Homo sapiens: one gene and its partner. The protein of the gene in region 1 purifies or fractionates together with the protein of each later gene. This does not show direct contact. Each region holds a gene or a part of one and is shown in the gene's direction. Other genes may lie near its edges.

The links.
Region 2: the proteins of NRK (region 1) and BLTP3A purify together in Homo sapiens (affinity purification with mass spectrometry, with the first as the bait; one large-scale study listed by BioGRID). This does not show direct contact.

The regions. Positions count from the first base shown.
Region 1 is NC_000023.11:105,905,780-105,909,815, forward strand, and holds part of NRK (nik-related protein kinase), read left to right. Parts: intron 1-634; coding exon 635-810; intron 811-2,460; coding exon 2,461-2,524; intron 2,525-2,947; coding exon 2,948-4,036. UniProt on the Homo sapiens protein: May phosphorylate cofilin-1 and induce actin polymerization through this process, during the late stages of embryogenesis. Involved in the TNF-alpha-induced signaling pathway.
Region 2 is NC_000006.12:34,798,583-34,802,082, forward strand, and holds part of BLTP3A (bridge-like lipid transfer protein family member 3A), read left to right. Parts: intron 1-3,500. UniProt on the Homo sapiens protein: Tube-forming lipid transport protein which probably mediates the transfer of lipids between membranes at organelle contact sites. May be involved in the retrograde traffic of vesicle clusters in the endocytic pathway to the Golgi complex.

The DNA.
Region 1 (4,036 bases):
TCTCTGAAGCTTGTTGATCTTGTACCTGAAACTCTTGCTTATTATTAGTTTTTATTGCTTTCCCTGGTAGAAGTGGTGACTGTGATTTGATTGTTAACATTCTGCATTGGAATTCAATTTAACCCTTTCCATGGATTCAGTTTTTATGGCCACATCTGTTTTCATGGGTCATTTTACAAGATTAGTTAGTCCTGGTGCTTTTAACATCCTATTTTTGGATCATTATATTCATTCCTCTGTAGTTAAAACTGCATATAGTCAAATGAAAAATACAGAGTATGACTGCTGTGGGCCGATCAATCTAGTCTTGCAGACTACATATATCACATTAACCATTTAATCATCATATCTGCACTTGAGTTTTTACCAGGTACATACAGTTAACTCATTGAAACTTCTACTGTAATTTAGATGGAATATGCTATTGACTCTTGCTTCTTTTTCTGAGGTCTAAATGGCCTCACTTTATAACGTATGTTGCCAAACTGCAGGATATTTGGCAATTGAGAAGACAATAATACCTAAAGGCAACTCTCTCCAAATATGATTTTCAGAGAGGCATGTGGGTGGTGGTGGGAAGAGGTCTGACAGGACTGAGAACACTTTTTTTTCCTCTCTTTGACTCATTTTTTAGGTCCCGTAAGTTCCACAATTTCATGGAAAAGTGTACGATAAAAAATTTCCTGTTTCGTCCTACTTCTGCAAACATGCTTCAACACCCATTTGTTCGGGATATAAAAAATGAACGACATGTTGTTGAGTCATTAACAAGGCATCTTACTGGAATCATTAAAAAAAGACAGAAAAAAGGTAGAATCTGTTAAGTTTTATTTTACTGAAATGAATATTCAGAGTTTATTCATGTATTGTTTCCAGGAAAAAGTAATATTTGTTTAAGACTTAGATTGAAAATAAAACTTCTGAGGCCTTTGATATTTAGTTTTGCCAATAATATGCCATGTGCTCTTATTTAATTTTCTCTTGCGTGTGTGTGTGTGTGTGTGTGTGTGTGTGTGTGTGTGTGTGTGTATAGTTACTAATTCTTGCCAGTTACACCTGGCAAATGTTCATATTTATGAAGACCTTGAAAGCATCCAATAAAGTTTTGTGATATGCCAATTTTAAGTAACTAACTAAATAAAATAAATAAAAGATAAAAGGTAACAAAATGTATATCTTGCTTTTTTTTCAGCTGGTATTTTGACTCTACAAGAGATAAATGGATTTGTAATTAACCATTTATTCACTGCTAATTTTGAAGTAGTATTTGTGCACCATACAAAGCTTGTTTTATGTACTAAACTCCAAATATAAAATATAATTAAAGGAACTGATTTATACAAATAAACATAAACTTCTGTCTATTAATAAAAGTGAACTTCTATTAAAAATGGCAGGATTTGCAGTGAGCCAAGATCATGCCACTGCACTCCAGCCCGGGTGACAGAACAAGACGCTGCCTCAAAAAAATAAAAATAAAAGTACCAGGATGGATTTTCACCAAGTCCAGAAGAAGCCCCTGGGAAGTCCTAACTTTATATATTATATTACATATTCCACATTTGATTTTGCGGACCATAGGCAGAGTTGAGAGTAACAATGGAATGTAAAAGGGAAAACTTGAAAAAGCAGGCATCCTCAGATCAGCTGTGGGATTGATTGTAGTGGGGCTTGTTGTATCTATACATGTATCATGTTTTGAGGCAAGGAGCAGCAAGAATTAATTTATTTACCTATGGTAATGAAGTTATTCAGCCAACTTTACAGAGGCCAGCCAGTTTCAAATGGGTTCAGGAAAACCACACATCTATATGGTAATTTGCTAATTTCCAGAATTGCAAAATTTCCAAAATGTTACCTGTAGGAAAAGTTCCATTTATATGGAAGTTACACTAAAGATATAAATATAGTTGCCCTGAACATTTTAATATAGGAAATTCAAAATAAAACTCTTGTTTGTAATCTTCTATATTTCAGTAGTCACAGTACAGCTGATGATAGGAAAGAAGCTGAATGTTTTCAATGTGTTTAGTGTAAAACACAGAATTAAGAATTTGCCTTCTCATTGAAAAGACCAAATATCAACCTCAAGCCATAAAGTCCTTACATCTAGAGCCCACAGCTGTAAGCCATGCTCACCACTATTTAGAGTTTCTCTTGTCTCATTCTCCCTTTGTCCCATTCTCTCTTCTTCCTCTTTAGAATTGCAGAAATCAAGTTGCTAAATTTTCTCTGTTCAGAGAAATTAATCTGCATGCAATAGCTATATTGTGCTGCAAAAGTGGGCCTAGAAACTAGAATATGGTCTACATCACAAACCAAGTACTTTTGAAGGGCTACCTTCTTGCCCTTGTAATTCACTCCACATCCTAAGAAGCAGAGGGAACAAGGTGATTAAGTGGATAACATGCTTATCTGCTGACTGTTTATGCATTATGTTTTTCTCTTTTGTAAAAAAAGGAATACCTTTGATCTTTGAAAGAGAAGAAGCTATTAAGGAACAGTACACCGTGAGAAGATTCAGGTGCGTTCCACAAATTGCATATATAATTTGATGATAGCAATTCACATAAGGCCGTTGATTCCATACTGTTGCCTTTGGTTCAGAAAGACTTAATTCTTTCTGATACAACAAATAACAAATCTCTGTTTTTAAGAGATATTGAGTGAAAATGTGAGAATTCTTTATTACTACCCAAAGACTCCTTAATATCTGGCAAGTGAAGATCAAGTAGATATCATATTTCATTAATAATTGAATACATTAGTAATACAAATGTTACCTGCAGAATATTTCAGACATCAAGGGAATGATTTCAGAAAGGTTTACTGAAGGTATCTTCATTGCAGAAAATGTCCATCTTTTAAAGTAAAAACAATGCCCCTGAATGGCTCCATTCCACTAAAAATTCTAATTGTATGCCAATCATTTGTGTGTTTATTTTAGAGGACCCTCTTGCACTCACGAGCTTCTGAGATTGCCAACCAGCAGCAGATGCAGACCACTTAGAGTCCTGCATGGGGAACCCTCTCAGCCAAGGTGGCTACCTGATCGAGAAGAGCCACAGGTCCAGGCACTTCAGCAGCTACAGGGAGCAGCCAGGGTATTCATGCCACTGCAGGCTCTGGACAGTGCACCTAAGCCTCTAAAGGGGCAGGCTCAGGCACCTCAACGACTACAAGGGGCAGCTCGGGTGTTCATGCCACTACAGGCTCAGGTGAAGGCTAAGGCCTCTAAACCTCTACAAATGCAGATTAAGGCACCTCCACGACTACGGAGGGCAGCCAGGGTGCTCATGCCACTACAGGCACAGGTTAGGGCACCTAGGCTTCTGCAGGTACAGTCCCAGGTATCCAAAAAGCAGCAGGCCCAGACCCAGACATCAGAACCACAAGATTTGGACCAGGTACCAGAGGAATTTCAGGGTCAAGATCAGGTACCCGAACAACAAAGGCAGGGCCAGGCCCCTGAACAACAGCAGAGGCACAACCAGGTGCCTGAACAAGAGCTGGAGCAGAACCAGGCACCTGAACAGCCAGAGGTACAGGAACAGGCTGCCGAGCCTGCACAGGCAGAGACTGAGGCAGAGGAACCTGAGTCATTACGAGTAAATGCCCAGGTATTTCTGCCCCTGCTATCACAAGATCACCATGTGCTGTTGCCACTACATTTGGATACTCAGGTGCTCATTCCAGTAGAGGGGCAAACTGAAGGATCACCTCAGGCACAGGCTTGGACACTAGAACCCCCACAGGCAATTGGCTCAGTTCAAGCACTGATAGAGGGACTATCAAGAGACTTGCTTCGGGCACCAAACTCAAATAACTCAAAGCCACTTGGTCCGTTGCAAACCCTGATGGAAAATCTGTCATCAAATAGGTTTTACTCACAACCAGAACAGGCACGGGAGAAAAAATCAAAAGTTTCTACTCTGAGGCAAGCACTGGCAAAAAGACTATCACCAAAGAGGTTCAGGGCAAAGTCATCATGGAGACCTGAAAAGCTTGAACTCTCGGATTTAGAAGCCCGCAGGCA
Region 2 (3,500 bases), on another chromosome or scaffold:
TTTCTTTCTTTCTTTTTTTTTTTTTTTTTTTACTTTGTCTGTGGTAAACAAGATAGGTATTTTATTTTTGCTGTCAGTTCAGTTTTTAGATTCTGAGGTATTTAAAATTTTAGTCACAAGCATATATCAGAACCTTGAAAGCATAAGATCTTTTTTGGAGTAATGTTCAAATTACAAAGGTACAATGAAAATAATTAGGGTTATTTCTGACCATTAACCTATAACATTTCTTACTTGGAATGGATGTAATGCTCAGCCCTCTGTCAAAATGACAATCATGTACATTAAGAGAAAGGAGGGGCTATTCTCCAGGCATTTGGGTTTTTGTAAATATTTGATCTTTAGGCTACCCTGGATTTTATTTGTTTGTTTTTTTGGAGACAGGGTCTCGCTCTGTTGCCCAGGCTGGAGTGCAGTGCCATGATCTTGCCTCACAGCAACCCCCACCTCCTGGGCTCCTGTGATCCTCCTGCCTCAGCCTCCTGAGTAGCTGAGACTATAGGTGCCCGCCACCAGGCCTGGCTAATTTTTGTATTTTTAGTAGAGACAGGGTTTCACCATGTTGGCCGGGCTGGTCTTGAACTCCAGACCTCAAGTGATCCGCCCACCTCAGCCTCCCAAAGTGCTGGAATTACAGGCGTGAGCCACCATACCTGGCCTAGGCTACCCTAGATATTAATGAAATAGTTTCATACTTGCTTTGTAATCTTGCCCCATTGGCATAGCATTTTATCTTTATTAAACAAATGAAAATTTAAATAGCCAGGCATGGTGGTTCACACCTGTAGTCCCAGCTACTTGGGAGGCTGAAGCAGGAGGATCACTTGAGCCTGGGAGGCTGAGGCTGCAGTGAGCTAAGGTCATGCCACTGCACTCCAGCCTGGGTGACAGAGTGAGACCCTGTCTGGGAAAAAAAAAAAAAGTATTTAAAAGCAATAAAATTTTCAAAGCAGTACTGTAGTATGTATTTGACATTCAACAGCATAATATATGGTTCACAGTAATGAAAATTAACTGCTTCGAAAAATTGAGAAGCATGTCAATGTAGCAGAAAGAACCAGGCTTTGGATTCCAAAAAGTGGCTGTGAATTTTGACTCTGCTACTTCTAAGCTAGACATTCAGCAAGTTTTTTAGCTTCTCCAAGTTTCAATTTCTTCATCTGTAAAATGGGCATAATAACGCATAATGCTTTGAGGATTAGAAATAATGTATAAATCTCCTTGGTCCTGAAAAAGTATTCCATAAACAATAACCATTACAATTTATCTTTACTTATTAGAGTAGCTCAAGAGAGACGACTGTTAGTTTTTGGAGATAGTACTTTTTTTTTTTTCATTATCTTCAAGGTTATGCCAGACTTTTCCAGATGTCTAATTCTTTAGACATTTAGATATTTGGAAATCACATTTCTTAGTCTTTCAGTACAGAGAGGTTGAGATTAATGCTTTTGCATTGATGCTTGAGGAGAAAACCAAAGTTGTTCCTATTTATCTTTTTTTTTTTCATATCAAGGCATACCTCAAGGAGGAAACTTTGACCTCAGCATAGCTGAAATAGCTGAAATTTGTATCTTGGGTTAGGCCTTTAGAGGATTTACTTATACAGCGTCTAAGAAGATAACATATACTTTATTAGGGTGAAAAATTAGAGGTCATTTAGGTACCCTTACTTAATACAGAACCTGGTTGAATAATCTGGGTATGGCATTAATCACGGAAAAGAAAGCTCAGTTCTCTATACCCACTGTAATGTGTCCTCCAAAACAGCAGGGATTGTGTGTCTTGGTTGCTTTGAAATCGGAGAGTTTGAGGATGCGTTGAGTGGGTAAATTGGGAGAAGATATATGTAGTGAGAATGCATGGTTGGAATTCAGAACTCAGAGAACCTTAGACTTGGGGAGTAATGGGGGTTGTAGGGAGGGGAGGACAAGGAAATCCAGTTCATCCCGTATCTTTAAGGGGCCTTTTAACTCTGTGTGGTGATGGCAAGTATTTGCTACTGGTTGTGAACACAGATATTAAAGTACCGGTGCTGAATACAGATAAATATTGGAAAAGAACATTTCCCAGTATCTAGAACCAGTAGAATCAATCAGTATCTATAGTAAAGCAGAAAACTAAAGTGTAAAATAATAATATATCTTAGTAAAAGGGTATGTAGTTGGTATCTGTTTGTCACAAAAATAAGATATATTTATATAGTGGTGTGATCTCGGCTCACTGCCACCTCCGCCTCCCAGGTGCAAGCGATTTTCATGCCTCAGCCTCTTAAGTAGCTGGGTTTACAGGCACATGCCACCGTGCCTGGCTAATTTTTTGTATTTTTAGTAGAGATGGGGTTTCACCATGTTGGCCAGGCTGGTCTCAAACTCCTGGCCTCAAGTAATCCACCTACCTGAGCCTCCCAAAGTGTTGGGATTACAGGCGTGAGATTACAGCCACCGCATCTGGCTAGGCCTAGATATATTATAAAATATTTGTTGAATTGACTGTTGTTTCATTTGCCTACACAGCAATCTTTTTACATGTATGCTTGGTCTTTAGAGTGCATTGGTTGTATGTAGCTTGGATTCCAGCCTATCATTTTAAAAAATTGTGGAGGACATTGATGGCAATCAATGTATTTAAGTCAGACTTAATAGAAGCACTGTGTTACTGTGTTCCCAACAGTTATTTCTAAGTTTGAAATTTGGAGTGTGTAGTCCAATAGAAATAGTGACGTAATGTTGAATAGTTCCCTATGTTAGCCTGCAAAAGCCACATAAACTTACTATATTAAGTTCTGGGTCTTGGTTGTTAGGGAACTATATTTGAAGGAGCTGGGGAGAGGGGGGAAAAGTATTTTTTTTCCTATTCCTTGGAGTAAGTTCCTTTAGATCATTGTATCTCACCAAGGACTGTTTTTGGTTGTCACAGTGACTGAGGGGCATGACTAGCGTTTGGTGAATGGGGGGCCGTGTCCTGCAGTACATGGAATAATCTCACATAAAGAAGCATTGTCCCTTGTCCTTTTTGACTTTTGAATGTCGTTAGATGTTTATGTAGCTGAATCCACTGTATAGATTAAATGAGCTTAGACTCTATTTTACATAAAAGCACAAAATATCGCACAGCTTTATTTTATTTATTTATTTATTTATTTATTTATTTATTTTTTGAGACGGAGTCTCGCTCTGTCTCCCAGGCTGGAGTGCAGTGGCGCCATCTCCGCTCACTGCAAGCTCTGGCTCACTGCAAGCTCCGCCTCCCGGTTCACGCCATTCTCCTGCCTCAGTCTCCGGAGTAGCTGGGACTACAGGCGCCCGCCGCCACACCTGGCTAGTTTTTTGTATTTTTAGTAGAGACGGAGTTTCATCGTGTTAGCCAGGATGGTCTCGATCTCCTGACCTCATGATCCACCCACCTCGGCCTCCCCAAGTGCTGGGATTACAGGCGTGAGCCACCATGCCTGGCCTGCACAGCTTTAAACTATAGTGAATATTTTAGGAAACTGCCATGAG